Linked DNA regions of Homo sapiens: all the other regions are linked to region 4. The links come from fine-mapping of genetic effects on plasma protein levels. A gene starts in region 4. Each other region holds a variant in brackets. All regions are shown on one strand. Distances are from middle to middle.

Region 1 (8,109 bases), 4.4 Mb before region 4:
ATTCAAATAGGCCCCTAATTTTAATGTTTAGCTTCTTGAAGAGTCCAAACCACTTTGAGAAACGGCTCCTACAGTGTTAGACTGTGGGGGCCTCTCAGATATGATAGAGCTTTCAGTTCCTTCCAGCTGTTTACACACTAATTCCTGAACAAGGTGGACTTGCCAGGAAGGCTGAAACTAGTGACAAAGGGACATCAAATAGCTTATTTTCAAAGACACTGTGCAACATGCTCATCTGCCCTTTTCCTTCCCTTTAAAGGTTATTTCTTTCATTCCCTTCTCTAGGTTTTTGATTCCAGGTTAAACTCTACAAAAATGTTTTTTTCCTCTTAACTTGCCATGCTCACACCTAATGCCATTTGTATCAAAACTCTGTTTTCTTGAGGTGGGCCCCAAGGGGCTGACTTTTAAGGGAGGGGGCAGATTTTGCCTGATGTTTCTGCAAGATTAAACATGGTGCTTATCTGAAGTTCAAGGCTGATGATAAATTATAGACTCAAGAACTTTTTATTCAAAGAAGCCAAAGGAAGAAGGAAACTTCTCTGCTAGCTGCTCCACCAAAGGGGAGTCATGTTCTCCCCTCCTAGAGCCTTACAAGAGATAATTTTGAGAGCTCATTCTGGTTTAGAGACAATACATGGTGAACAAAGCTCATCTGTCATTGAGTGGGAGGTAGGGAGGAAAGAAGGTAAGAGAGAATTAAAATTGTAAAGCCAACATCATGTGGATTCCTCCTTGAACTTTAATAACCCAGTGCTGCCTGCAGGCTCAGAAAAACCAAATGCAATGGGTAGGTACAAGGATTGCTCTGGTGCCAGGAAAATGCAATAAGACATAACTTTTATAAGGTAGGCAATGAAAGAGTGCCCTGCAGGAACAAAACAGGCTTTTAACATCTCCAAAGTTGGCAGCCAGATGCCTGAAACATTGGTTTAGTGCATCCAAAACACACAACAGATAGAACCACTTTCTTTAAGATGAAGTCATCTTCCAGGAGAAACAATAGCTGGGAAGGCTGGGTTTTTATGATTCATGGGAGGAGGAGAATTTGATCTGTATTTTCTTTGCCACAGTCTATCCCATTTTAATGCATGTTAGAGGTTTTCCACATGTTAGGCAAATTTTCTAGAATGTTTTGAAAGGGAAAAAATTCTGCAGACTGCCTCAGTTACTGAAAGAGTTCTCTTTCTCCCCTGGCTGGGGAGGGATCCAGTTCTGTCTCACCGTGTTATCGAAAAGATCTGAAACTACAACTCTTCATTTGGATTCTGCTGTTATGAAATGCAGTTTGGGGTATCTTGTTACACTTTACTCCCAGAAGTGTTAAAGGAAGTGCCTGTCATCAAAATTCAAAAATAAATATAAAAATGATGCTGGCAGAGCTCAAAAACTAAAAGGATCAGCATTTTGCTTCAGTTTCCTGTTCATAAAACTTTATAAAAACAACCCACCCATTTAAAAAAAACCTGTAACAATAGTTCACTATTCTTTTCCTAAATGCTTGCCTCATGCCACTCTGAAATTAGGTGCCATCACGTTTCCTGAGTTATGGGCCCCAAACACCACATCCTTTTCCTCCCTCCCACACCCCCACCCCACCTGGCATCATTCCTGAATTTAGATGCTTCTCCAGTTTCTGAGCTCAGTAGACAGATGCCAACATTCTCCCTCCTACCTGTCCTGAAGTGGCCAAGCATCTGTACCAGCTGGAAGCAGGAATAATTGAGGCTTCCTTCCCCCAAATTAATTCTCACTTCCTAGAGAAGCTTTTAATATGGAAGGTTAAATTATAAAGTGAAGAGCTAGTAAACTGAAAAAGAATAAGATATTTCCCTCCCACTCTGCCTTTACAGCAAAATTTTCTTTGTGGAATACTCAACACTCTGTCCTTCTTTCTGGAAGAACATAGAATACAAGCTCTAGAACAAGCTTTTCCAACCCATGGCCCACAGGCTGCATGCATCCCAGGATGGCTTTGAATGTGGCCCAACATAAATTTGTAAACTTTCGTAAAACGTTATGAGACTTTTTTTTGCGATTTTTTTTAAGCTCATCAGCTATTGTTAGTGTTAGTGTATTTTATGTGTGGCCCAAGACAATTCTTCTTCCACTGTGGCCCACGGAAGCCAAAAGATTGGACACCTCTGCTTTAGAATGAGAAGCCTGGGTTCAAATACCAAGTTTTCACTTGCCAACTATATGACTTTGGACAGTTTACTTAATGATGACAAACATCAGTTTAAGCATCTATAAAATGGGGATATGAGAGTTTCAAGGTTTTAATGAGTTAAAAACACATGAATAATCCAATAAGATAATATGTATGTCAGATTTCTAAGCATACAGTTAGCACGTCATGCTATTATTAACCCTTCCGGTAAATAAATCATCCTTCTCCCTTTTTTTTTAAATGAATTAAGGAAAAAAGGTGGAATTTGGAGAACTTTTCCAACACTCCTTGCTTCCAAAGACATTAATTCTTTGATTTAATCTTATAATTTCAAAAAAGGATATGACTGTTGCACATATATAAAAGAAGCAGCAGAGTGAAGAGTGAACTGACCTAAATTAGAAGACATGGGCCAGGTGCAGTGGCTTACACCTATAATCCCAACACTTTGGGAGGCCAAGGTGGGAGGATCACTAGAGCCCAGGAGTCTGAGACTAGCCTGGGCCACAAAGTAAGACCTCATCTCTACAATAATAATAACAATTATTATTATAACAATTAGCCAGGCACAGTGGCATATGCCTATGGTGACAGCTACTCAGGAGGCTGAGGCAGGGTGATTGCTTGAGCCTAAGAGTTTGAGGCTGCAGTGAGCTATGATCGTGCCACTGCATTCCAGCTTGGGCAACAGAGCGAGACCCCACCTCTAAAAAAATTAAAAAAAAAAAAAAAAGAAGACATGGTATACAATCTGGCCCTACCATTAAGTCTGTGGTCTTGGGCAAGTCAAGTGATCTCTCTGAGACATAGATTCTTGAACCATATAACAAGGTGATTTAAACATAAATGTGTATGCTTCTGTGATTCTATTAAACAGCAAAGACTGAAGTGTATATGGAGTATTATCTTGATTTTATGCTATTTAATTTCAGGAAAGCTTTCAAATAAAAATTCATATCTTATGTACTGATGAAAGCACCCTGTCTAAAATTAGCATGTTTGGTATAGGCAGCCCACATTTTGGGTTGGTTCAGCATGGTAATATTTTATGAAGGCTCATCAGAAAATTAAGCTCAATGTACTCATTTGTCAAGAAATGCATATGCATATAGATTCTTTTAATATCAAATGGCAAAGCAAACAAGAGGTTGAAACAGAGGAAAGATCAACTATGAGAAAAGAATTACTGAGGGAAAATGGAGACAGACTACAAATGGGATAGAACTGGCCTAAAATATACCACTGTCACTTAAAAATAGGTACTCGGTTACATAGTGCCTGTGT[T/C]ATCTTTACAACAGCATTTGGTTCCTACACTGTCTTCTTCCTACAGGCCTGTTATGACTATGAGAGCTATCTGTTCCTTCAGTGGACCAAGTCTTGCTGCCTTGTGGATTCTGCCCAGTCACAGCTTCCCTTCTGCCCTTCAAGGGTGGGCTGCTTGCATCTAAGTGGTAGGGCCATACCTAATTCTGTTCTGGATATAACACAGATGACTGACTGGGCTTGGTGGCTGATGTCTATAATCCCAGTACTTTGGGAAGCTGAGGCAAGAGGATCACTTGAGGCCAGAAACTCAAGACCAGGCTGACCAACATAGTGAGATCCTGTCTGTACACAAAATGTAAAAATTTAGGAGGGCATGATGGTGCATTCCTATAGTCCTAACTACTTTAGAAGCTGAGGCAAGAGGATGGCTTGAGCCCAGGAGTTGGAGGTTACAGTGAGCTATGATTGTACCACTACACTCCAGCCTGAGTGACAGAGCAAGACTCTGTCTCTAAAAAACAAAACAAAAATACACATCTAGATGGTTGCTGGCATGAGATGCTAAACCACAGGCTTCTCAAAGCTGAGGGTTCTGTGCAACCCTGGCCAAACTTCTTACCCAAAATACTTACTTACATTAATGTTGTCCATTTATAAGAATTAGAACTAAAAACAAAGATACCTTGCAGCAACTTCTAAATAGTGCCCCATAAATAACAAATAGCACTAGAATTACTTAATAAATCATAATCTTCATTATTCTCTAGCATCTGTTTCCCCTACTAGATTGTACGCTCCAAAAGAATCATGAATCGCTTGTACAAGGCTACATCCCCATTGCCAAAAGATGCCTGGCAAGTGATGAGAGCTCAGTAAATGATGCTGAGAGCCGAAGAGGTGTTTGCTCTCTGCCAGGCACTGTGCTTTGACTTTAATGAAGTATCTCAAGTAATCCTTACAACAATCCTATGAAATGAGTACTTCTATAGTAGGAGAAACTGAGGCACAGAGAGTTCAAGCAACTTGCCCAAAGTCACACAGCTAGTAAGCAGCAGAGCTGGAGTTCAAATGCAAGCACCTTGCTTCTAGAACCTCAAGTTCCAATTCTGAAGCGGAACGTTAATTCACAGGCCAGTCACAAACCAGGGAGTCCTGAGGCCAGAGCCTATGATGCAAGGGTCAAGGATTTGAGCCTATATGATATGACTGAAAGAACACTGAATGAGAAGCAGTGCTGACTTGGGTCCAGTCCTGTGACGTTTTTGCTCACCAGCTTCCCCTGCTGATCAATCAGGGGGTTGGATGCTCACTCAAGTCCTTGTCAGGTGTCAACCCCAAGTGCTAGAGTCACCCTAGACATAATCTCACATCCAGAAAACTACAGAGCACAGTGTGCTCTTCCACCTTCCACGAGGGAGAACCACCAAAATATCAACCATCAAGCAAGTTACTCAGTCTCTCAGAACTTCAGTTTCCTCATCTGCAATCAGGACCAAATAGCACCTACTTCAAAGGGTGGAGGTGAAGATTAGAGAGAAACCTGGTTAAGGGGCTACCACATAGTAATAATTTCATAAACAGTAGCTAGGTTTATTATGGTCCCAAACAGAGCGAGGAGATAAGTCTGGAGGAGGAACGAATCTCTTCAAAACCCAGGAACCAACCAACCAGTTGGAAAGACAGCTCTGAAACTCAGATTTTTAAACAATTTCTAACAGTAGACTACATGTGTGGCACATCATCCAAGCAAAAAGTTCCATATCAGATTCTCTTTCAACAAATGGAGTAATAAAGACAGGTTTGAGTTAACTTCAGCTGGAACAGAAAGAACCATTATGACTTGGGAAGTTCACACCTGAGTGCTGAAAAGCTAGAAAATAATGTTAGGTGCCATTTGCCTTATGCCAGACCTGTGACAAGCATGTGACATATATTACCTTACTGAATCCTCACAACCTGCTGAAGAGGGTACTGCCCTGTTGTATAAATGAGGGCATGGAGGCTCAGAGAAGATAAGTAACTTGCTCAAGATCACACAGCTACTAAATAGCCATGCCAGAACTTACTTAGTCTGCCAGAACGTTGATGGTCTTAACCACAAAGCTACACCCTTCCCCAAAGATAGCGTGTCATTGGCCCCAGCATGCCCCGTACCCACAGGGCAATCATGTCCACACCATGGGCAAGTGGCTTTATAGGAAGGCCACGCATGGGGGATCAAGTGGCCTTGGGTTTTGGTCCCTGTTTACCCACAGACTGTGGCAGCTATGGACAAGTCATTTAACTTTCCTGGACCCTGTTTTGATCAAACAGAATGTACTGGATTAAAGTTTTTCAGTCCAAGTCTTGTGGAACATTAATCACTTACATTTTATACCCGAGAGGTTAGGGATAAAAGAGGAGCCAAAGACATAATGAGCTAACCCTCTGTCCTGGGACTCTGGCTAGGGGAAGAAGTGGAACACATTTGTTACCAAACAGAACTGGGTGACCCTCAGTTCCCTTCTATCTTGAAAATTCTGAAACTCTACTGAAAATTCTGAAATTCTCCTGAAAATTCTGAATTTTATGTGACAGGAGAGGACAAAGAAGAAAAGGACTTCAGGGAGTCATGTGGGAGGTGGCAGGGTGGCCATCTCAAAGCTATGTTTGCACAGCGACTACAGTGTACATGCTTAGCTGGTAAGCTTATTTGAGGTGCTTCTGGAGTGAGGGGGCTGGTGGAGATAATGGGAAAGGAAGCTAAATTCCTCCTCTTGAAATGACTAGTATTGCATACAGCAAGCACTCTATAGATGCTGATAGAACTGAATTCAAAGGAAAAAAGACCTGGATCAAACTGATAGAAGTTGAGCTGCTGCTCAAGATGTATGAATATCTCAAAAATGCTAACAATTGCTTTTGTTCTCAGCCACCCACCCTGCCATAAGCCATTTTCAGTCTCAAGATCAATTCTTTTTCGTGAGAATGAGCATACCTCTTTCAGCAGGATAACCACAGGTAAACCTCCCCCTGCACCCCCTGCTGCCATCCTACGCGCTTGGAATATGAACAAAGGTGAACTGTCTGGCTGATAAAGAATTCTGCTTGTTTTCATTTGTATCTTTGCCCAGGGTCGTGGCAAATATTGTTTCATGGGTTTCCAGCTTTGTTTTTGGAGCTCAAAGGATAAAGTGCTCCCACAAGAAAGAATAAAGAGAGAGGAAAGAAGGTAACGAAAAAAACTATTTCATTCAAACAGCAGAAGTCCTTTCTTCCCAGGAAAGGTGACAGTATGCTACATCCTCTGTCTGAGCTGCCAAAGTCTCCATCTAGAGATACTGACAGCAACAATAAACTTAAAGAATTTTTTTATACTTGTATTCTAAAAACAGGACTTAAGAGAAGACTAAAGTCTTCTGATTCCCAGCTGATGTTTTTACCATAAAACTAGGCTGCCTCATGAACATATTCCCTGGGCCACAAAAAGGTTGACTCATAATAGGCACTCAATAAATATTTGTTGAATGAATTAAAGAACAAAAGAAAGGAAAAGGCACAGAAGGTATGTATCAAGGGCTGTCAACATAAGAGGACCAATTGGTTGACATTTAAAAAGCTTTGTGTATCTTTGAACTCAGGTCCAGAATAGTCCCTCCCTCATCCTTCTCCATGTTTTAAAATACCATTCATTATTCAAGTCTCAGACCAAGTTTTTCTTCTGAGAAGCTTTCCCAGGTCAACCCAGCCCTGTGGAGCTAGTTTATTCTTTTGAGTTCTAACAATTCTTATTACTACCACTTAATTAACCATGTTCTACCAGGTGGCAGTTTTTTTTTTTTTTTTTAAAGACAGAGTCTAGCTCTGTCTCCCAAGCTGGAGTGCAGTGGTGCAATCGTGGCTCACTGCAGCCTTGACCTCCTGGGCTCAAGTGATCCTCCCATCTCAGCCTCCTGAGTAGCTGGGACTACAGGTGCACCACCATGCCTGGCTAATTTTTATTTACTTATTTATTTTTTGTAGAAATGGGGGTCTTACTACGTTGCCTAGGCTGGTCTTGAACTCCTGGGCTCAAACAATCCTCCTGCCTTAGCCTCCCAGAGTGCTGGGATTATAGGCATGAGCCACTGCATCTGGTGCAACTTTTTTTTTTTTTCTCATTTTGTCATCCAGGCTGGAGGTCAGTGGCACAGTTGTGGCTCACTACAGCCTGGACCTCCTGGGCTCAAGCATTCCTTCCATCTCAGCTTCCCAAGTAGCTGGGACTACAGGCGTGCACCACCATACCCAGCTAATTTTTTTAGTTTTTGTAGACATGGGGTTTCACTATGTTGCCCAGGTTGGTCTCAAACTCCTGGGTTCAAGTGATCCTCTCCCCTTGACCTCCCAAAATGTTGGGATTACAGGGGTGAGCCACTGCACTCAGCCTAAGCTAATGTCATCATTTATTCCTACATTCAACTTTTATTGACCTACCAGTTTAATGGTCAATTGAATTTTTGTGCTGTTATACTACTGCCAGGGGAGGCCAGTAGCAACTGGTATCTGCTCAGCTGTATAAGACTCTACCCAGGGAGGTACTGTAAGGATGTGCTGTGCCCTCAAAATAACTTCATGCTAAAATTAAGGAAGATGCTTATCAAACCTCCAGATCTACTCACCAGTTTACAGAAAACGGGGATAGAGGAAAACAT
Region 2 (8,109 bases), 420 kb before region 4:
CATTTATGGAAGTATTAAAACATCTCATCCTTGTCCTTAGCTTAACATATTAATGAGAATTTCTGAATTAATCTCCAATCGTGAACTGTGTCTAGGTGTGATATAAGGGCAGTAAATACTGTGCAGCTTGCTTCAGGCATGTTTTATGACAGATTCTCTGACAGATAGAAAATCTTTAAGATTAAATTATTTCTGTATTTTCCTAAGAAACTCATCAGTACTAACAACCATACCACTTCCCCAACTAGTTGATAAACAGAAAAGAAAATATTATTAAGTGATGGCACTTGAGGAAATAGTTAAAAGGAGAAACTCAGAACATAAGATTGTGATTATATATAATGAGGAGATTCTCAAAATGGCACAGAAAGGAAAGGAACGAGTTGAAGCTGAAAAACATATGTTTTTAGGAGGTAAGTTATTCCATAAAGCAATTACTAAAATGTGAGAGTTCTTCTCATGGTTCTCAACCTTATACTCTGAAAGAGAACTTCTTATAATGCAAGACTAAGAGAGCCAATTACTTCAGCACCAAGGTACATCCTAAATCTCTGGACTTGGCAGTTCAAAAAAACTCTTGGAAAATGTTCTTCTAAAATCTTCACTAACAGCCCTGACTTTAGAAATGTAGACTCTAAAAGGATGAATAAAAACTAACCAATTAGATAGCAAAATGGAGAAGAGAGAGCACTGAATAAAAAGACCTGCCAGAGTTCGGGTTGTACCTCTGCCACCAGCTTCAGACTTAGTTCATATTTACAATAAAACCATAATCATAAAAATTAATAATTATGGAACACTTAGTATGCCAATAACTTTTCATATATTATCTAATTTAATCATCCTAACAACCTATGAGGGAGACACCACATAAGAGAAAAGCAGTTGAAGAGTTTGTCCAAGACCACCCAGCTGCTCTGAGTGATGGGTTAGGATTCAAACACGATTTTTTTGGACCCCAGAGCCCAACCCTTAACCACTCACTCTGCAGAATAGTTCAGAAACCTCCTAGGATGATCTAAAAGGCTTCTTTCAGCAATAGGGCGCTAAGATTTATGAGACATGATTGTATAATGGAAAAAAATCTCAGGTTTTTGAAGTGACTTTGTAGCCCAGTTGAGCAGCTTCTTCTCTAAGCCTCAGAATCTTAGATAACAACACTACTTACCTTACAAGCTGGCCTAAGGATCAGAGATAATACTAGAGCCCTTAGCCCCAAGTAATAATAATAATAATAGGCAGCATTTATATAATGCTCATTATGTGCTGGGCACCATCTAAACATTTTTTTCCCCACATTAAAGTATGCAATCTTCACAATGACCTTAAAAGTACTATTATTTTGTACTTTTTATCTAATTGTATAAGAATACAATTAGATAAAAAGAAAAAAAAAGAGTTCTATTGTTTTGATTCCTGTTTTACCAATGAGGAAACAGAGGCAAAGAGAGTTAAATTACTTGACCTAAATCACAGTTACTAAGTTGCAGATCTTGGATTCTGATCCAGACAGAATGACTCACTGGACAACCCAAAACATATTGGAGGCACTCCTACTGATACATAAAGAACCTCCTTGCCATGCCCAATGTCTGTGTCACTCTCACCCAAAGTAACAAATTTAACATAAACTTGGGAGGATGAAATACATAGGGATGCCCAGATAACCTGCCTACTGTCATTCCGCAGATTGTGCCTTTAAAAAAACCAATTTCAATAGAAACCAGCAAGAAAGAGATACATCAGGTATGTCAGACATACGTGGTCACAACTATTTTTTCTCCTTCCTGGCTAATCACTCCCTTTGTGTTGATAATGTGCTGCTTTAAATCAATTCATAAAAAAAAAAAAAAGCACAGAGGCACCATAAAAGTCGTTTTTCCTGTTTTCAATCTGGAAGAAATTCAGTCTCTTATTCATTTTAAAAACTATTTTAATAATAGCTTTTACTTAACCCAATATATCAAAAATATTATTTCAACATGTTAATAAAAGTTAATAAGAGATTTTACGCTAAGCATTCAAAATTCAGAGTGTACTTTACATTTAAGGCCCATCTCAAATCAGACTAACCTGATTAGTCTGAATGCTCAGTAGCCATATATGTTGCTAGTGGCTACCATATTAGACAACACAGTTCTAGAAAGATTGGCTTAGAAAAGCCCTGGTTGTTGATATTTATAGGTCTCTTTCCTTGGGCTGGTCAAATTCCCCAGAAAGATATCTTTCAATCTCCTGCCTTAGGGGTATAAGCCTGGGTGCCATTGTTCTGAGATTTAAGTATGGGAAAGAGCAGAAGCCCCATCATATTGTCTTTCACTTAAGCCCCGATTTTCATCATTATACCCATCCTCAGCTATGCATGGTGACTCCAATCACGAGCCCTGTAGTTGGTCCAACCCCTCCAGTCTTCCTCCTGGGGAAGTAGGGAGGGAGGCAGTTGGGAGAGGCAGTTCCCAGGCTATGCGGATTGGGCAAGAACTCTGGGGACTGATTAGCAGTTATTTGTCATTCTTTCAATGTTCTTTTAATATTCCTTCATTCCCACTTTCATACATTTACAGTGCCATGAATTCCTGACACGTTCTAGAATCTCAGTTTAGATTTTACCGTTTCTCTCCCCTTTTAAATCAGTCCCTGGCCTTTTAAGGCAGCTTCTACAATTGTATTCTGTGACCTTCTCCTCTATGATTTTTGTTCATATTCCCCTCCCCTTTTTTAACTAACATTTTTTATTTGAAATAATTGTAGACTCACATGAAGGTTGTAAGAAAAAATACAGAGAAGGTCCATATGCCCTTTATCCAATTCCCTTCAATGGTAACATCTTGGAAAGCTATTACACAGTAACACAACCAAGATATTGACAATGACACATTCAAAACACAGAATGTGTCCATCCCAGGGATCCTCTTGTTGCTCTTTAATAGCCACACCCACTTCCCTCCCACTCCACCCCTTCTTAACTTTTAACCACAAATCTGTACTCCATTTATATAATTTTTTCATTTGAAAAATGTTATACAAGTGGAGTCGTACAGTGTGTAATCTTTTGGTTTTGTGTTTTTTTCCCCTTTAATCTATTCCCTGAAGATTCAGTCAAGTAGTTTCATGTATTAATAATTCATTGCTGAGTAGTATTCGATGGTATGGATGGACCACAGTTTGCTTAACCATTCACCCAATAAAGGACATCTGAGTTGTGTCCAGTTTGGGGCTATTACAGATAAAGCTCTATGAAAATTCATGTATGGGCTTTGGTGTGAACATAAGCTTTTGTTTACTTGGGATAAATGCCCAGGAGTATGATAAGTGCATGTTTAATTTTGTAAGAAACTGCCAAACCATTTTCTAGAGTGGCTATAACATTTTACATTCTCACCAGTAACACAATTTCTCTGCATCCTCACCAGAATTTGTTGTTATCATTATCTTTTATTTTAGTTATTTCAATATGTTCATAGTGATAACTCATTGTGGTTTTGATTTGCATTTCCCTGATGGTTAATAATGTTGAACATCTTTTCATGTGCTTATTTGCCATCTG[T/C]ATAACCTCTTCAGTAAAATGTCTGGCCATGTATTTTCTAATTGAGTTGCTTGGATTTTTTTACTGTTGAGTTTGAAAATTCTTTATATATTCTAAATACTAGTCCTTTGTCAGATATGTAGTTTGCAAATATTTTCTTCCAGCCTGTAGTTATTCTTTTCATTCTCTTAAAAGGGTCTTAGGCCGGGCGTGGTGGCTCACACCTGTAATACCAGCATTTGGGAGGCCGAGGAGGGTGGATCTTTTGAGGTCAGGAGTTTGAGACCTGGCCAACACGGCAAAAGCCAGTCTCAACTAAAAAGAAAAAAAAAATACAAAACTTAGCCAGCCACAGTGGCATGCACCTGTAGTCCCAGCTATTCCAGAGCCTCAGGCAGGAGAATTGCTTGAACCTGGGAGGCAGAAGTTGCAGTGAGCCGAGATCGTGCCACTGCCCTCCAGCTTGGGGAACTGAGTGAGACACTGTCTCAAAAAAGAAAAGAAAAGAAAAAAAAAAAAAAAAACTCTTTCACGGTGCAAAAGCAAAAGTTTTAATTCTGATATAGTCCAATATATCACCAATATATCATTTGTTTCCTGTTATGGATTGTGTTTATGTGAAATCTAAGAACTCTTTCCCTAGCCAGAGATTCCAAAGATTTTTCTCTAATGCCTTCTCCTTCTAAAAGAAGGGTTCTTTATTCTGTTCCGTTGATCTATGTTTCTGTCACTCCATGGATAGCCACATAGTAACTATGCAATACTTCTTGAAACTGGGTAGACTGATTGCTCCCACTTTATTATTTCTTTTTCAAAATTGTTTTAGCTACTCTAGTTCCTTTGTTTCTGTATAAATTTTAGAATAATGTCATCTATATATGAAAAAATCATACTGAGATTTTTGATAGGAACTGCTTTAAACCTGTATATCAATTTGGGAAGTATCGGTATCTTTACTACGCTGTGACTTTCAAATCATGAACACAACATTTTTCTCCATTTATTTACATTTTTAAAATTTATTTCATCAACATTATATAGTTTTCAACAAACAAGTTTTATAAATGTTTTATTGGATTCACATAAGTATTTCATATTTTTGAGCTAAGGCAAATTGTACTATATTTTTAAAATTTGTGTCCACAGATTCATTGCTAGTACAAAGAAATACAATTGATAATTTAAATGTCTATCTCATATCCTGCCACCTTAATGAACTCAATTATTAGTTTTTCATTTGTTTGCTTGAGATAGGGTCTCACTCTGCCACCCAGGTTGGAGTGCAGTGGCACACAGGTATTGGCACAAACACAACCTTCTATAGCCTCAACCTCCTGAGCTCCAGCCATCCTCCTGCCTCAGCCTCCTAAGTAGCTGGGATGACAGGCATACACCACCAGGCCTGGTTCATTTGTTGTTGTTGAGGAGAGATGAGGTCTCTCCATATTTCCCAGGCTGGTCTTGAACTAGGCTCCAGCAATCCACCTGCCTCGGCCTCCCATCGTGTTGGGATGACAGTCATCAGTCACTACACCCAGCCACTTACTAGTTTTAAGAGTTGGTTTTGTGTTTTTTCGTCTTTGTAGATCACTTAGTGTTTTCTGTGTAGAAAATCATGACATCAGCAAATATTAACAGTTTTCTTTCTTTCCATCTGTATGCCTTTCATTTCCCTTTCTTGCCTTATTGCATTGATTAGAACTTCCTGCACTATGTTGAATAGGAGTGGTGGAACCAGCCTTGCACTGCTGGACTAGACTCCATTTCGTCGTGGTATATTATTCTTTTAGCCTGAATCCTGTTTGTTAATATTTTGTTCAGGATTGTTGTGTCTCTATTTATGACAGTTATTGGTATATATTTCTCTTTTTTGCACTGTTTTTTCTGTTTTTCATATCTGAGTAATACCAGCTTCCTAAAATGAATTGCGAAGTGTTCTCTCCTATTTTCTGGAAGAGACTGTATAAAACTCCTATTAATTATTCTTTAAATGTTTGGTAAAATTCTCCAGTGAGGCCATCTGGGCCTAAATATTTATTTTCAGGGAGTTTTTAAATGATTAATTCAATTTTTAATAGTTATGGGCTTTTAAATATTATCTATTTCATGATAGGTGAATGGTAGGAATTTGTGTTTTTGAGGAAGTGGCCCATTTCATCTAAGTTATCAAATTTATGTGTGTAGAGTTGTTCATGGCATTTCTTTATTATCCTTTTGATGTCTACAGGGTCAATAGTGATATCTCCTCTTTCATTCCTGATATTGTAACCAAATGCAGGTCCAGATGCCCACTGTTTACAGAGTCCAGTTAACAAGAGTGAGGTCTAGTAGAAAGAAAGTCATTTTACTAAAACCAGTAAAGGGGAAATGGTCAGATTCCCGCCCAAAGCAATCACTTTGATTTTGGGGGAAGGCAGGGGTTTAAAAAGGGAAAACTTGATAAGGAAGGCATGCAAGAATTGTACTAAGTATAATATCTGTGTGTCTTGTTCTGGTAGCTATCTTGGGTCTCAGTCTACCTGGATGGTGAGTCAAGACATCTGGGAATATCTTTACTTCCCCTTTATTCCTGAGGATATTTTCACGGGCTGTAGGACACTGCTTTGATTGTTGATTATTATTTCATTCAGGACTTTGAATGCTTTAAGTTCCTGAGCAGCCATGGCCAGGTTTTTAACTAGCCACTTTGAAGTAATCTCTGGAATTTTGCAGCTGGGTCTCCAAGCTTATTCCGCCTGTCTCAAGATTAGCCCCTGGAACTTCTAAGAAGGCACAGTAATTAGATACTAGTATATACTTAGACAAATGTGAAGGGAGTATATATGGTGAAAAAGGGAGGGACGTGGAGCCTATTTCTAGGCTGAGGAAAAGGCTTCTGCAGTTTTTCAAGGTTGTATCTTGAAAACCAAGAGAAGAGAAAAAAATGTTTTAAAATGCATTTGGAAGTTAAGTTGCCTAGTTACAATATTGGTAATTTGTGTCTTTTCTCTTTTCTTTGTCAGTCTTGCTAGACTGTCAGTTTTATTAACCTTTTCAAAGAACCAGCTACTCTTGTTTTCCTTTGATTAAAGTTTGCATGATACATCTTTTCCCATTATTTTACTTTCGTCTATTGTTATATTGAAAGTGAGCTTCTCATAGACAGAATATAGTTGGGTCATATTTTTTAAACAATTCTGCTAATCTCTTCCCTGTATTATAAGTGGTATATTTAGACCATTTAACTTTAATGTAATTATTGATATTTTAGAATTTACACTGCCATTTTATTTTTTGTTTATTTTCTGTTTGTTCTCTTTGTGGTTTTCTGTTTTCTTTGCCCAGACTTCTTATAAGCTATTTGAACACTTTTTGGAATTCTGTTTTGATTTATCTAAAGTGTCTTTCAGTGCATTTCTGTATATAATTTTTTAAAGGTTTCTCTAGGTATTACTTTATATATTTATAACTAAACAGTTTACTGGTGTCATCATTTTACCAGTTTGAGTAACATATAGAAACCCTATCTCCGCACTTTGCATCCCTTTATCTTCCCCATTTATAATATAATTATTTTAAATACTTCCTTTACATGCATTTACATCCACATCAGAATATTGCAATTTTTGCTTCAAACTTCAAACACAATTAGAGCTCTCAAGAGTACAAATGTTTTTGCTATGTTTTTTTCTTCCTTTCTGATGTTGAAGAGATCCATTTTTAATTGTCTTCTTTCCAATTAGATAACTCTTTTCTTTTCTTTCGAGGCAGAGTCTCACCGTGTCATCCAGGCTGGAGAGTGCAGTGATGCAATTATGCAAATTCTTTTAGTTTTCCGGCTGGGCGTGGTGGCTCACGCCTGTAATCCCAGCACTTTGGGAAGCCGAGGCAGGCGGATTGCCTGAGCTCAGGAGTTCGCGACGAACCTGGGCAACACGGTGAAACCCGTCTCTACTAAAATACAAAAAATTAGCCGGGCGTGGTGGTGGGCGCCTGTAGTCCCAGCGACTCAGGAGGCTGAGGCAGGAGAATCGCTTGAACCCGGGAGGCAGAGCTTGCAGTGAGTCGAGATCGCGCCACCGCACTCCAGCCTGGGCGACAGAGCAAGACTCCGTCTCAAAAACAAAAACAAAAACAAACAAACAAACAAACAAAAAACACAAATTCTCTTAGTTTTCCTTCATCTGATAATATTTTTACTTCCCCTTTATTCCTGAGGATATTTTCACAGGCAATAGGATACTGGCTTGACTGTTGATTGTTATCTGCATTCAGGACTTTGAAAGCTTTAAGTTCCTGAGTCTCAGCAGAAACTCAAAAATAATACATGTAGGAAGAGCTAAAAAAATATACAATAAACCGGATCCTATCGAATTTAAATGTCACCAGGCTACAAGAAACTGATTCTGGCAGAAAAAATAAACATGTGAAAAATAATTACAATAATGTGTGATAAGTGCAAAAATGCAGGTATGTACTTGTCACGATGCTGACACACAGAGAGAATCAGCACTGCTTGAGAGAATCAGTGAAAACTTCTCAGAGATGTGTGAACCAGGTTCTGAAAGTTAGGTAGTAAAAGGACTTCCTGGGTGAAGGGGAAC
Region 3 (8,109 bases), 1.3 Mb before region 4:
TTCCATCTCCAAGATTCAGGGAAAACAAGATACTTAGTTGGGAATGTCTAGAGTGGAGACCTTATAAAAATTACTTGACAGACTTGGGAGAGGAAAGCATTTTGCAAAACACCAGCTATGAGAATAAACAATTTTAGAGAATCCCTTGGGGACATTTTTTTTCCTATGGATCCCAAAATCTTTTTTAAATAGAAACATCTCAGGCAGGGGTAAGAAATTATTGGTTAAGCCCATTTAGAACGTGTACGCTGTCATGGAACATTCCTATCAATGGGGCACATTGAAACTCTACACTAAGATATGGTGGGGCTGTGGTGCTTTACTGGATAAATAAGAAGGGGTTTGGTCGCTATACTCCCACCCTGCCCATAAATGAGTAAGCCCGTGTGACAAGAGTACATGTTTTCGAAAAGAAAGAAACTGTGAAACTGAGCGTCACCATCCTGCCACATAAAAAGCAACAGAAATGAGAATTAAATTCAGCACTTTCTTAATGGGAGACTGAGGAAATCTGGGAGATGAAACAGTAGCTCTTCTCCAGTCCTTCCCAGCATAATAAGGTCAGCTGACAACACTGTTCGACAGAGAAGACTTAATGTGTCTGACAGATGGCAAATACACCATATTGACTTTTCTTCCTAATTTAACAAATTTGAATCTTTTGTCAATTTTCTTTCCCCAGTGAAAAGATATTCTAAAACACCACTTAAGCTTACATTGCTCTTTTCCCCCTCTCCCTCTTACACATTAAGTTTGACACTATCTAAAGAAACTGAAGCTAACTCACTAAATTAACTCACCTTTCCAGCTCTTCATGATCATCACAAATTTGGGCATTGGCATGAATGTTAATTCCTCATCTCTGCCAACTGTAAGGCAGATACTCACTTCAGGCCAGAGGAAGGTGGCTGAATGGACAACAAGGATTCCTTGAACTCTTAAAAATAACACACAAAAGTGTGCATCTATATTCTTCATACTTCAAAACTATGTATCTATGTTCTTCAAGAGTCCCCAGTTTTGCCCAGTTCCTGAAGGTATAATGCCTCTGGCTTTAGCTATAGGTTGTTATAATTAGCCCTCATTCTACAGTTTCTAACCGGACTTTGGAATTTTATGGGGTTTGTCTATATAAGATGGATGGGATGATAGCAGAGAAGAGCTTCAAACTAGTGGAGCTCCTGGATCACAAAGCTGTGTAAGTCATCCCAAGTGTGACTCAAGTTCAGCCTGGAGAAGCCATGGCCAGGCCAAGGATAGCTTGTCCCACAAGGAGGCAAGGGGCCGTTTCCCACCACTGCCTCATCCCTTCCACCATGTGAGGACACAGGGAGAAGATAGCATCTATGAACCAGAAAGTGGGCATTCACCAGACAACAAAGCTGCCAGTGTCTTGATCTTGAACTTCCCAGCCTCAAGAATGTGAGAAAAAAATGTTGGTCGTTTATAAGCCACCCAGTTTGTGGTATTACCTTAGAGCATCCCAAATGAACTAAACTACTGTTTTCATAATTTACAATGTGTCCTAAAATTAATTATAATCCTAACTATGAACATGAAATTCTGCCAATGTGAAAATAACATTAGTTTCTCTTGACAACCTTTGTAGTTATGTTACCCAAAAGTATCTATAGACAAAGCATCTGAAGATTTTAGTGGTTATTCACTATTATAAACAACAACCACAAAAAACCCACCACCAACAAAAAAAACACTGGGTCCATGGAGAAATAAGTTTGAAAAATATTTCATTATGCAAAGTAAAATGGATTTATTACAAAAACCTTCTTAGAGCATCTCATGGAAATGGAGTTTAGAAGAATACTATGCTTTAGATTATTCCTGAATCCAGACACATTTTTTTTAAATTTTAACTCAAAGGATTAAAATTTCCACACTTGGAATGCCCCTGTATGAGGAAGAACTGAACGCTGTCCTGTCTTGTCTAAGTTTCAGAGTAATCCCTATGTTTCTAGCTGATTAGCTGGTTTCATAAGGCAAAGGGCCTTCTGAAAATGGGCCATTGCTTCTGTGACAAATTCAATATCCAAATTCTATTGCTGCCCTTGAACTGTGCTCTCTGATTTCCTGCTGCAAAAATGTAGGCCATCAGTGGGGACGTGAAAAATTTGTTCATTACACACAGATTCCCACAGTGGCAGTGCCTGGCCACATTACCGAACCTATAGATAACATCACAGCACCTGACATCCAGCCCACATTTCCTCAGCCTCAGAGTAAAGAACATACCACGGTGCCCGCACATTAACGCAGAGAGATGCCCTTGATAATTAACAGTTCTTATGGAGTCTCTCGAATGCTAAATGGTCAAATAGAGAAGTTAAACACACATAAAACATTTAATGTGAAATGAGGCAAATATGCCAAATTAACCTGAAATGCACACAAAAGCCTTTCAGCTCTGGAATCGATATTAATCATTTTCTGGAATTCAAGAAAAAGTCTGATGTGGTTAATTTAAAATTGTATTTTATGATAGAGAACAAAAATATCCCACAGGATTCAAGGTATCAGTTTACACTACTGCCACTCCTTTTTGCTGCCAGGGTCAGCAAAAAGAAAAAAAAAATTATTGATCTGGTATTAAAAATCAGTTGACTTCACTTCTTTCTGAACAGGTATTCTTTGACCACTAAGCACTGGCTAGTCTTACCTCTCTCTAGTGACAACATGAAGAGATAAATAGACTATTCAAACAGAGCTCTTCGCGTTACATTAGCTGAATAAATAGTGATGTATGGTCTCTTTTCTCAAGCACTGCCTTAGCTTGTGAAGATGAGAGTGAGGAAGATGGGGCTTATGAATCCTATTTGAATATTTAAATAAACACAAAATAACATCCCTGAAGATGGTTGTTTAAGTGGAAAAAGAAGGTATGAAAATCTGTCTTTTAATTGTAGCTTTTGGGGCAACAAAAAATCCCCCAAGAAACTTTTGAGATTCCAGTGTCAAGTGAAATCACAGAAGAAAAAAAAAATTAATTTGTGGTTTTATAAGCAGTATCCAGAGGAAATGGGATGCCAGTCCCACAGGGTTTTCAAAGGCTGCAAAGCTAGCACAAACCAATTCACCTAAAGTGAAGTATATTATCAATAACTAACTGTGATCACTTTTTGGCCTTCCAGCTAAGATCAAGTGTAATAACTAACTTTACTTTGGGAATATTTCACAATGAATTTTTGCCCTCTTTAATCTGCTTTAAGATTTCTGTGCTCAATTTCCGGTATATGCCGTACTTGCAGAAAGGGATGAAGTTCTGAGCTAGGTTAAGTGCTTGTGGCTAACTACAAATGTGTTAACACAATGTAATTAGGTCATCAAACAGCATCATGTTTATTAGGTACCAATAGATAAAAAAAGGGAGCAGGCCTAGACCAGCACATCAGCCCCAGTCCCTACTGTCTTGGAACTGGGATTCTGAGACATCTCCGTGGCTTCTACACATTACTGGCATAATTACTAAATCCAAAGTTTTCTATTTGTAAATTAGAGATTCTAGCAAGGAAAAGATGAAGTCCTATGCATCGTGCATTAGCCAGGATTCTTTTTTTGATTTTTTTTTTCATTCTGTTGCCCAGGCTGGAGCACAATGCCACTATCTCAGCTCACTGCAACCCCCACCTCCCTGGCTCAAGCGATCCTCCCACCTCAGTCTTCCAAGTAGCTGGGACTAGAGGCATGTGCCACCATGCCCAGCTAATATTTGTATTTTTTGTAGACATGGGGTTTGGCTACGTTGCCCAGGCTGGCCTCAAACTCCTGAGCTCAAGCAGTCGGCCCACCTCAGTCTCCCAAAGTGCTAGGATTAGAGGTATGTGCCACCACTCCCAGCAGGTCAGGACTCTTTTGGAACAAAAAGAAGGGGTATATTTATTGGTTCACATAAACACATCCTCAGGAATGTTAAGGCAGAACCAGTACAGTCCTACCTTCCTATTGGCAGTTTTACTTTCTATGGTTTCAAGTTGCCTACAATCAACTATGGCCTGAAAATAAGTGACTAGAGTACAATATTCTGAGAGCAAGAAAAAGACCACAATTATTAACTTTGTACTACAATATATTGGTATAGTTGTACTATTTTATTAGTAGTAATTGATCTCTTACTGTGTCTAATTTATAAATTAAACTTCATCGTAACTATGTACATATAGGAAAAAACAGTACAAACAGAATTTGGTACCATCTGCAGTTTTAGGCATCC[G/A]CTGGGGTCTTAGAATGTATTCCCTTTAGATAAGGCGGACTAATGTATAGTCCTTTCCCTCTCCAGTGTTGGCTTCATTCTCTCAGAATAAAGATGACAACCTGGCTGTGGAAGGTGGCCTCAGGAAGCTCCCAACCTAGTAATCAGAGAAGAATGAGAGGATTGCCCCATTAGTACCAGAAAATCCCTATATTAGCAAAGACAGGGACCTGATTTGGTCAAGTCTCCATTCCTGTATTACCCCTGTGGCCAAAGGGGATTGAGTAACTATAATTAATCCAGTCATGAGGGAGGAAGAGTTGCTGCATAGACCAAAAACAAGAGCCTCTACGTACTGAAGTGATAGGGCAAAGAACATATATTTACGAATTATAACCAAGTCTAAATTGTATTCGAATTCCTAGAAGATCAATGTTACTTAACTTTCCTGTGAATAATACTCTTGCCTCTTACTAAGTAGCACACTATCCCTAATATTCCAAGGTGAAACTCAGTCACTGAGAATTGGGCATGCTGCACCAGACTGTTTTCCCAGTAGTAGCAGGAGATATGCTGAACCTCATATTCTTTCTCTTTACTGCTTTATTATCATTAATGCCTTAGACTGAATTTCTCCAGAACTGATCATGAGACAGGAATCTGAGTACAAATGGATTATTTGAGAGATGGGCCCAGGAAGCACCATTAGGGGAGAAGTGGAAGTAAGACAGGGGAAAAAAGAAATCTACTACAAGAAACATTTATAAGAATATTAGTGCTTCAAGCAATTGGGGCTCAAATCCACTGGGGGGGGCTCTGGAAGACAGCGTGGAACATGCTACCCTCTGAGTTTTCGCACTTACGACATAGGAAGCTGGGGAATTTATCCTCAAATTCCCACTGGTATTGGCTAAACATTGTTCCTAAAGTCAATAATTCCTGACACTTTAGGCCTACACTCTACACCAGCAAGAGAAAGCCCCAGAGTGCAGAGTAAAAGGCATGTGAAATAGAATAACCTTAGCACATATGAGAAGGGTGAGTCCCAGAGAATGGAACCAAGGCACACAGCCTTGGCTAATACCAGTAACACACACTTATGAAAATGTGCCTTCATTTATTCAAATACTTACCAAGCTCCTATTAAGTTTGAGTTTTCTTCTAGATGATGGGCATACACTGAGGGACAAAACAAAGATTATTGTCTTATTTAATACCCAGCACAACTGGGCGGGGCAGGGGCAGATTCCAGGGGCTACATGTCATAATCCTCTTCACAACAGCAACTTCAAATGTGGTCCCTAATCTTAAGAGTAGCAGCAGGGTCAGCAGTATTGGGCTTCACCATTACTAAGCCAGGTGTGTTGAGGTCTATGATCCAGTAATGAACCTGAATCAGAAATGGAATCTCAGATAGGTATTGGAAAAGTGGGAGAGTTCCCATCGTAGGACAGTGAGTTACATTTTGTTTAGGAAACTCTTCAGGGACATCTTCTCTGTGGTGGCTTGTGTCCAGAGGCACTGCAGAGTTGCCTGCTCTAACTCTTGACAGTTGAGTGGGGCATGCAGCTTCTGGACATGGAAAGGACTAAAGTTAATTTGCCCATCTGGGGATTGAACTGGCATCAGTGACTTCAAATGTGCCCTGCAGAGCCCAAATGATCTCCATTACAAACACAGAATGCTCCGCCTTCCAAATGCCACAGAATTCCATTTTATCTGCACTGGCAGGGTAAGGCAGAGTATTTGCCAAAACTCCAGACATAGGGGGTTATTTGTAAAACCTTAGAGTATTATCAGGTGTTGCTTTCAATAAACCATTACACTTGTATAGAAAGTAACAAACTACGTGGTCTAAGGACCAGTTATCCCTATTCCAAAAAATAAAGTGTAAGTAAGTAAAGCAATTTTACATTGAATCTTGAACATCTATGTACATAATTTAGAATTTGCTAAAAGGTAATTTTATCTGTGCTGATTATCTTTACCATTTGGCATTTCCCATCTCAGGGCAATGAGTACAACTTCACAAGTCCAGCTCCGCTTAGCTGTGAGTACTCAATTTCACTAAAGACTTAAACAGAAAATTAAAAATCTGTGAGAATTGGGATGAGTCCTGTCTGTCTTAAAGCAGGGTGAGCAAATATATGTGGCACATGCCCTTAAGAGACATTATTAATTGATCACCTCTCACTTTCACACTGAGCCTAGGCTGAACCTTAGAATCCGTCACAGCGCAGGTGTCCACTCAGTCATGACTGGCCTTCCAGAACTGGGTACTGGAAATGAAACCTACTTGACACTTAGGATACATTTATAGAGCCTGGTCCCCTCAGTACTATACTCCCCTCTCACAAACAGAGAGAGAGAAAAAAAAGAGGAAGAGGAGAGCAGAGAAAGGATGGGGGAAGGAATGAGAGGAAGAAAAAAAACTCTGAACCAAGTATCACTTCCTTTGCGGTCTGCACATGTCAAGGAATACTCCATTTTAAGCATATTATAACGGCAAAAAGAAAAAAGCACTATCAATAGCGGTTCACACTTTATGGCTGCTCACCCTGAAACTGTAGCAGCTAACTTTCTTGGGAAAACTCAGACAGACTCATTCTTTCCAAAAACAAGGAAAGAAGAAAAAGAATTTCCCACATCCTTAAGATAACTGAGAAGCTCTCAGTAGGAGTAAACTGTCCAAATAAAATTCAACGGCACCCCCTTTGGAAGGATAGTTAAGAAACACCACATGTACAAAGAAGGATTAAGATTCCAAATACTGTCTTTTCTCCAACTCGATTTTTCCTTCTTGTGCCCTTACTTCTCAAACAGTTATTCCCTTTGCTATATCACCCAGAAGTCTGTGATTGGATCTCCCTTGGACTCCAAAGGGCTCTGGGTATGAGAAAGTAGTCCAAAATATATATATATATATATATATATATATATATATATATATATACACACACACACACACACACACACACACATATATACACACACACACACACACACACATATATATGTGTACATATATGTCTAGGATTTACTATAGAAAATTTTTAAAATATTTTTATGTATTTATATTTATAATATATTTACATATTTAGTTTTATATATATTTATATAAATATATACATATATTTATATAAATATATACATATATTTATATATATATAAATATATTTATATAAATATATAAATATATATATATAAATATATTTTGTATTATATATTAAAATATATACGTATATATGTGTATATATGTATAGGATTTACTATAGAAAAATATTTCATATTTTTATATATTCATATATTTTATATTATATATTAAAAATATATGTACGTATGTATAGGATTTATATACATATATGTATATATGTATAGGATTTACTATAGAAAAATATTTTATATTTTATATATATTAAAAAATAAAAAAATAAAAATATAAAATATATAAAATATATAAAAATATAAAATATATCTATATATATCTATATTATATATAGATATGAAGATATAAAAAATCTATATATTTTATATAGATATAAAATATATAATTATATAAATAATATAGACATAAAAATATATATTTATATATTTTTTCTATAGGAAATCCTATATATATTTATTTATTTATTTAGGACTGCTTTTCCTGAAACTCTGTAAAAGTTTTCATCATACTAGCTATTTCTTGTGATGAGCCAGATCATCATTCACCTGGTATAAATGAGCTTGGCTGTGAACACGGTTAGAAATTAGAGCCAAGGATGATCTATTAGTTCATCGTGTGTGTCTCATGGGACAAAAGCAAATGTGTTTCTCTAAAGAGTTTTCTTGAATGGTTTCCCAAGTCCAACTTGAAATCACATTCACAATCTTGTCATTTTCCTCTTTCTTGCAGCACACCAGTA
Region 4 (8,091 bases):
TTCCTGTTGCTCCTTCCCTGTTCCCTGCATCACTTCTTTTCAGTAACTCACCTCCTTATCGTAACCTCATGGCTATTGAAGTTGTCAGCTTTAGAAAGAAGCACTGCCACATCCCCACGGTCATTGCCCCAGGATTACTCACCAGCTGGATGACAACTGCCTCACTCTAACCCTGAGCCTCCTGGGATAGGACCAATCCTTTCTAGAGATGGACAGAAGGCCCCACTGACAGAAACAGGCTGCTTTTAAATCAAGGATTTAATATATAGGTGGAACCATAGATCAGGGGCCTCTCAGCAGGCAGTACCGAGCCAAAAGCTTCACTGTCTCTCTGCCCACACAAGAGAGTGTCACTGTGCTGACAAGACAGGTTATCAAGAGTTGTGAGGAACTTCATATTTTAAATGTGATGACCAAGTGTGCTACTCTAAGAAAACAAGTGGCAAACAAATCCTTTTATAATATAAATACCTGCTTAAAGTTTTAAATCTTGAGGAAATGTGAATTTTCATATATCAGGCTTACAATAACAAAAATAAGAGCTATTATATTTATCTATTGACTGCAAGCTGTTAAGAGCCTGACAACATGCTCAAAGCTTTAAACACACTTTCTTCTTCATCATCACTGTGAGGTAGAAATGCTTATTATCCCTATTTTAAGAGAGAAAACCAAGGGCTAAGTAACCTGTCTAAAAGGCACAGCTGGGAATTAAATCATGGGTCCCCAGACAACCCCTCTACTGCTTCTCTGCTATGTCTTACTATATAGATCACTTTCTCATCTGAGAAGTCACAGATATGGACATTCCCAAAGAGACAACCCCTTGGAGAATGATCTCAAAGGCTGAGATTTTTCTCTGCAATGTACATGTTGAAAGCAAAGTAACCTCCTACATCTTATATTTCAAAGCTGCACTTCTGCATTAAAAGAGTAAACAGATTCAATGAAGAGATGTGGGAACAGGGTGCTTATGAATGCAATGCCACAAGTACTTTTTCAGTGTCTACTGGTGGTCAGGCACTGTGGTGGAAGCTGAATGATCAGACTATCAGTTGGGAGAGCGTGGGGGTGGGGGCATGGGGGTGATGAGGAGAACTTCTCAAATAGACTGTTTCAGGAATGTTTAGCCAATAATTCATAAAACTGTTACTTTATTACCTAACTATATGGAAATCATCTTTCAGAAGAGACCAGAGTTACCTGCCTTATTATCTGTGAATACATAATTGAAAGGGCCAATATGTCTTCCAAAATGAAAGTCACAACTTGATAGATTTCTGAGAGTTCATATTAGAGGGTCAGATTTTAACATGTGAATGCAAACATAGTGTCAGAATTTGTTCTCAAGTGTCTGAAAGAACAAAAGAGAAAAGAGTAATGGGAGCCAAAACCAGACTAACTTCCAAAATAGAAACAGAGCATGTTGAAGTTGCATAAACACACAAATAAAGATGGGGACACAAAAACATTTCCTAAAGCATTCTATCAAAGGCTGCAGGAAAAAGGCCAAGACAAGGATACCAAATAGAAAAGCATAAGCCTAAAAAGGTTATCCACACTACTGTGAGGACTCCAGAAACCTGCCTTCTTGCAGAAACGGGATACTTTTGACATGAGGGCATGAGATGAAGATTGCAGACTACTTCGTAACACACTCTCCTCATTTATAAAATAAGAGTTAGATTAGATTATTTATAAGGTCCTTCCAGTCTGAATGCATTAAGTCCTTATCATCTATGTGGTCCTTGCACCTTAAGAGAGATGACCATATAAAGAAGCTCAAAAAACATTTGTTGAATTCATGAAGTATTACAACCTTACCAATAATAAATAAGATAATTTATAACAATTGGTCCTGGTCTGTGGCCTTGAAAGAGCAAATTAGAGGAGAAACCATTATCTAAAGAGCTACACATCTGGTGTTCCTGCTAGCTGACTGCTGGTGGAATGAAAATAACCCTGGACTTGAAAATAAGATGCTTGGTTCTAGTCTAATCTCTGACACAAACCAACTGTGTGACCTTGGGCAAACTGCTTTACCACCTGGGCCAGTTTCCTAATCTCTAAAATAAAGGTATTCTAAAACTATATACATATATATATGGAATCTTTATTATAGGCCAAGAAGTGTTCCAAGATCTTTGCATTAGAATTAAATGATCTCAAAGGTTTTTGCAGCTCAAATGTTTAGTATCTAAGTACAGAGGCAGCATGGTATAATTAAAAGATTCCAAATTCTGTAGCCAGAAAGGTTGGACTCCTCCTCAGCTCTGTAAGGTAAGGTCTTTCTCTAAGCAGAGACTGTTAAGCAGAAGGGCTTACAGTCTCAGTCCTTTTATTCACCAGTGTTTTAACTTGAACAAGTTACTTAACTTTCCTAGCCTTAGTTTTCTAATCTGTAAAGTTGATATAAAAATGGTTCTCACTCTCATATAGCTTTTAAGAGGATTAAATTATAACACATATATTTTATTGAATATATATTATATTGCTAGCTGTGTAATCATGGGCTATCTTCTCAAGTTTTTTCTCATATACAAATGGGAAATGTAGTATTAAAAAGAGATCATGTGAACAGGTTCTAAATGGTCAAGTGTTAGTGGTTTTGGAAGCATGTACGTTAATACTTGGAACACCGTATACAACAATCCCATATCTAACACTTAGAACAGCATATGCAATCAATAACAACACACACACACACACACACACACACACACACACACACACACACACACACACACACAAACCCTAGACTTCTTTCTTTACTAAATATTTCTAGTCCAGGTTGCAGCAGGTGGACACAGGCCGGCAGCCATGAACGCAGGTCCACATGGGAGTTGTAGTTCCGAGTCAAGCGGCTGCTCTACAGAACGGCTAGAAGCGAGACTTCGTCTCCCAGGAGACATCTCGCCGTGCAAAATGGCACGCCACGAGGTGGAGTACCTGCCCGACGAGAAACAAGAGGCGGGACTGCAACTCCCAGAAGCCTCCGCGGCCAAGGCCTCAGGCCGCAGGCTGAAGCCAAGGAGGGAGAGTTCAGGTAGATCCGGCTTAACATCAGGTGCGAGTAGGGACCACCCTTGGTAGTCTGGGCCCGGCCCAGGTCAGAACCTTACTAAAACAACCACTGTGAGTATTTTCTATTGGTCCCAGCACATTTCTGAGAGACCAGAATAATAATAGCAGTAAATCTGCAAGTGGTAAACTTTCACAAGCATAACCTCAATTTAGATTTCGGCTTCAGGCAACATCCTTTGGCCACTTGACCTGGGAGCATTGAGCTCCTTGTTTCCCAGATAAGCGCTGTGAGTGGCTGTTCCAAGGTAACACAGCGAGGGCAGAATGTGAGCCTACAGAGAAATCTGCAGATGCATCTCAAGTTCCACTAACCTGCCTCCTTACCCCCCACCACCACCAACTTGGATATACCTTTAAAATTCCCCCCTTTGACGCTAAAAATAAAAACAACAACCATAAAATAAGTGTAAGAAAGTCCGACCAAGTACCGATGAGTTCTCCCACAACAATAAATTCGATGCCTCTTTGCCTGTTTTTGAAGTAGTAATGTAAAATTATCTCCCAAAATGCTGCCTTCTCTATACTCCGGTTTGCTCCTGTCCTGGGCACGTGTTCAGCAACCCCTTAGGGGAATCCAGAGCTGCGTGTTTAACACAGACCTGTTGGGACGGATTTTCGCTACTTGTCTATGAAACTGACGAACCATCCCAAAACGGCGGGTGCCGACTACACCCCCAGAGCCAAGAGCTGTGGCGTCCCCGGACCCGCTGGCGTGGCCCCGTGCCTCAGTTTCCCCAATGTATAAACACGGTGGAGGAGGAACGGGTTAGGGCTAGGGTCGGTGCTTGGGAATTGGGGGGCCCGAGTCCCCACCCTGAGACCCTCGTGGGGCGGAAGAGTACTCGGGACAGAAGCCCACCGCCCCGTGAGCGGCGCCGGCCCCACTGGGCTCCGGGGTGATGACCTGACGCGCGTGGAAACCCAGACCCGCGCCCCAGAAACAGTATTCCACTTGGGCTTGCCTCCCCGCCCCTACCTTCCAGGATGTTGACAGCTGGGAATGAAAGGCAGAGGGAGGGAGCGCGGGGCCGGAGCGCCGCCTGGGAGTGTGCCCACTGGGTGGCCGCCTGAGGGACCCGGGAACAGAGGGCAAAAAGTCCTGTGACCGGACAGAGCAGAGCGGGGACTGCAATTCCCAGAAGACCCCACGGTAGGGGCGGGACCCAAGATGGCCGCTTGTCTGGGGACAGGAGCGGAGGCCAATACGCGCAGAGCATGCGCCTACGCCGGGCCAATTGAAAGCCATAGTGACAGTAACCCTGATTCAGGGGCGGGAAACACTGACCACAGAAGACAAGTTGAGGTGAGAATCCCCTTACAAGGGGGTTTGGGGCATAAATCGCACAATCTTTGGCTTTTTCTAACTAGAAAAAGAAACATGATTCTTTTCACGTGTAACGAAAGGCTGTACCGCACTTTTGCTTTTTTCTTTCCTCCCAAAACGCGTTTAACTATCCCTTCACGACTTCCCACTGGCTGGATTTCTTTTCGTTTCATTTCCCCACTCTGGATCTTTCTGGATTCCTTAAGCCTTCTTTTCTTTATGTGTCTCTCAGAAACACAGACTTGCAGTCCCTGGCTTGATCCATCAAATAATGTGGTCATTTACGACTACGCTCAGCCCTCCCTGGCATCCTAACAAAATTGCACCACATGCGCCCCTTCTCTTTTCCTTTCTGTCTTTTCTGTGCTGTTTTTCTCCTTAGCATTTGTCGTTACGAAGCATTGTATAAAATTTACGTATTTATCTTTTTTACCATCTTACTTTCTCACTAGAATGCAAGATCCCTGCAGATGTGGATTTTTGTTTTGGTCACTGTAGTCTTTCTAGCACCTAGAAAAGTGCCCAGCACATAGTAAATACACCGTATTTTCAATAATTGAACGAAATCTAGAGTGACCTTTCTCCCCTAGTCTCCCTTTCTCTGGTGCAGATCAACCCGTTTCTGACCACCATGGTTCCTTGTGCTTGTTCCCCTGTTTAATCCAAAATCATTATTGATGTATTCTGTGCCAAATGCCATGTGGGTGCTGGAGAAATCATTGATTCAGACCCAATTCCTAACCTCAAAATGCTCTGTCTAGTGACGTATGAAAAGTAAAATTAATTTTACAATAAATGCAATTACAAATTGCAGAACACCTACGTAATTTTCACAAGGTCATGCAGCTCCTAAGCAAGGACTAGATTCCTGGCTGCAGACTCTTGCCATTACATCGGGAAAAACAAAGAGCAGTTTTCTCTCAGACAAACACTAAGATAGGTCCCCATTTTCCTTAGCACCATTTCCTTTCTCTGTCTCTCACTTTTTTATTTGGCCTGATTCATTACATGCAGGCAATTACATCAAGTCTTAGATCTCTCATTATTTCTAATATTTGAATCCCATGGAGAGTAGCAAGGTGTCCTACAAAGTGTCCTGGTGTGAAAATCTGATGTCCTTGGAAGCTTGACTCTCAGAGAATGTCACATTGGATTATAGTTCATCACACAGACACCATGGCCACATAAAATATTATCAAATTGTGAATAACAAAGTGAAATTGAAAAAAAAAATATAGTTAAAACAGCAGGAATGTGAGCAATATATGTACAGACTGATTTTGTGCATAGAGATTAAAACACCTGTTCAGGCTTCCTAGCCTAATCTTCTGTCAATTTGGGGTCATTTCCTGTAATACAATTCTTTGTTGCTTTTATGAGCACAGACTTAGCTCAGCAGTCCCAGCTATTCTCAAGCTGATCGACATGAGAGATTTCAACACATGTGTCAGCAGCCAGACTAAACGTGGAAGAAAATCAGAAGCATTTGAAACTGTAAAGCTCAATAACTTTCCTCCTCCTGAGAAAGCATCAGCCTATAATCATTACATCTTCTACTTAGCAGTCAAAAGGCAAATGTCATGAACATACTCAGGGTCTAAACAGTGGTGTCTAATGATTATTGCACTGTTGTCAGATAGCCTAATATGAGCACATAGGTATTACTTCAGCTGTGGATAATGCTGACTGCTGGGCTCAAGGTCACCCACGACCTTGAGCAACAGATACATTCACAAAGAGCATGAAGACATAGAACTTGCATTGGATTCAGGACCTTCAAGTGCCAAGACAATCAGTGGGAGGTTACTGTCTGATCTGCAACTTGACTGAATTAATAACCACCTTAGTATGGGTTCTCCCAGAAGCAGATCTGGAGACAGGTATTCAAGAGCAAGTATTTTATTTAGGAGGTTATCGCAGGAAACACCAGTAAGAGACTAAGAAAGTGAAATAGGGAAGAGAAGACCAAAAAGATGCCTTATCTAGCACATTACCGCTAGAGGCACCCAGAACTTAATCCTCCTAGAAATCTCTGGGAAACAATATGGAACATGTACCTTAGACTGAGTGATTCCACCAAGAGGACAAGATAACTGGGTTGTTTAAACACCAACTACCGTCAGTCAATGATTGGGGGCAGCTTTCAGGGATTATTAAGACCCTGGCTTGTCTGCAATGCTCCAAGAGTAGACAGAGTTGCCTCAGTGGCCACAGAAAGCCAGAGATAGAAGAATTAAGAGTCACATTGGTATACGCTGAAATAGTAAGGGAATATAGCATACTGGCGGGGCACCAATAATATCTGCTACAGGTGGCTTTGGTTTACCACAAGCTCATGTCACTGAAACTAACAGAATAAGAATAAGTCAGAAACTAAGTAGATAAATACAAAAAGCCCAAGCAGCCTACCACCTTCTATCACTCATCAACAATTAAGATAGATTGTACTTTCTAAATCCTCACTAAGACATACAAACCAAACAATAGCAGAAGCCTCATTTACACTGGGGAATAGGAACTCTTTGGGCATTTAAGGAGGGTGCTTTGGGAGCTTTGGGGCATGGTAGTGCAAGGAGAAAGAAGATTAAGAAAAGGGGAAAAGGACATTTAAAGAAACGTGTTAAAAACATTGTGTTTTTCATTTTATGGTCTTGAAACATGAGTAAAGGGTGTGGATATTTTAAGAAGGTAGCATCAAGATCTGGGTGACTTTTAGACCCAGAAGACAATTTTGTGAAAGACTTCTGTGGATTGTGCCATTATAGTACTTCTTCATAGCAAATATCTTTACTTGAAATTATACCCACATTTATTTGTCCTTTTGTTTATCATCTGTCTCCTTCAAACAAAAGGTAAACTCCATGAAGGTAAGAACTTTGTTTTCAGGCCAGGCACGGTGGCTCATGCCTGTAATCCCAGCACTTTGGGAGGCCGAGGTGGGCAGATCACGAGGTCAGGAGTTTGAAACCAGCCTGGCCAACATGGTGAAAACCCATCTCTACCAAAAATACAAAAATTAGCCAGGCATGGTGGCTCACACCTGTAGTCCCAGCTACTTGGGAGGCTGAGGCAAGGAATCACTTGAGCCTGGGAGGCAGAGGCTGCAGTGAGCCAAGATTGTGCCACTGCACTCCAGCCCAAGTGACAGAGCGAGACTCCATCTCAAAAAAAAAAAAAAAACAAACTTTATTTTTGTGTTATTCATTAGTCAGCACTCAATAAATATGTGGTTAACAAATGACTATATTATGGCTACAAAAAGTAAACAGGGTAAGTACTAGAAGAGCCTGACATTTGTACCATTTGTATCATTCAACTAAATCATAAAGGTAAGAGGCACTGGTAACTACACCATAACCCCCCATTATCACGAAGCTTGGGGCCATCCTTGTGTGTAGAAAAACTGGAGGTCACATAATGTTCTCTGGCTTTAGTCAAACACTTCCAACAGCATCCTCTTCAAGCACACATGGCCTACAAGGAAATCTTTACCATGGAAACAGAATTTCAAAACTAAAAAGTCCGTAGAGGTCAAAGAGTTCAACCCTCTGCATAATTCATCTTAGCCATATGTTACAGGTCATAATTCAGACCTTCAGACAAGAATCTTTATTTATTTGTAATTTATTACAAATTTATTTGAAAAAATAATATCTAATACAAAAATATTATATTAGAAAAAA

Direction of the effects. Positions count from the first base shown, and alleles are read on the strand shown. Strength reflects both the effect of a copy and how common the allele is.
With allele C in place of T in region 1, the plasma level of the protein whose gene starts at base 4,212 in region 4 is higher (weak association).
With allele T in place of C in region 2, the plasma level of the protein whose gene starts at base 4,212 in region 4 is lower (strong association).
With allele G in place of A in region 3, the plasma level of the protein whose gene starts at base 4,212 in region 4 is lower (weak association).

The links. PIP is the posterior inclusion probability: the model's chance that the variant is causal. The UK Biobank Pharma Proteomics Project read protein levels with antibody pairs (Olink). The fine-mapping took linkage between variants from a reference panel, not from the people measured, so its PIPs are less certain.
Region 1: its variant is fine-mapped to the plasma level of the FHIT protein (UK Biobank, PIP above 0.99).
Region 2: its variant is fine-mapped to the plasma level of the FHIT protein (UK Biobank, PIP above 0.99).
Region 3: its variant is fine-mapped to the plasma level of the FHIT protein (UK Biobank, PIP above 0.99).

The regions. Positions count from the first base shown.
Region 1 is chr3:56,812,267-56,820,375 of GRCh38, forward strand. It overlaps a transcript of ARHGEF3 not described here. Among named protein-coding and RNA genes, the nearest start is that of ARHGEF3, 14 kb to the left of the region's middle. The variant T/C (reference allele first, on the strand shown) is at 3,455.
Region 2 is chr3:60,830,849-60,838,957 of GRCh38, forward strand. The region is part of intron 3 of FHIT (fragile histidine triad diadenosine triphosphatase); the gene reads right to left. Among named protein-coding and RNA genes, the nearest start is that of MIR548BB, 220 kb to the left of the region's middle. The variant T/C (reference allele first, on the strand shown) is at 3,548.
Region 3 is chr3:59,979,385-59,987,493 of GRCh38, forward strand. All of the region lies in intron 7 of FHIT (fragile histidine triad diadenosine triphosphatase), which reads right to left. It overlaps LOC105377112 (a long non-coding RNA gene), which reads left to right and starts at 5,519. Exons shown (of 3, transcript XR_940885.3): 1 at 5,519-5,563; 2 at 6,215-6,254; 3 at 8,100-8,109. The variant G/A (reference allele first, on the strand shown) is at 4,226.
Region 4 is chr3:61,247,241-61,255,331 of GRCh38, forward strand. FHIT (fragile histidine triad diadenosine triphosphatase) reads right to left here and starts at 4,212. Exons shown (of 10, transcript NM_002012.4): 1 at 4,061-4,212. LOC124909387 (a long non-coding RNA gene) reads left to right here and starts at 4,352. Exons shown (of 2, transcript XR_007095939.1): 1 at 4,352-4,387. RefSeq lists enhancers at 2,801-3,080, 3,361-3,490, 3,631-3,760, 3,891-3,950, 4,015-4,309.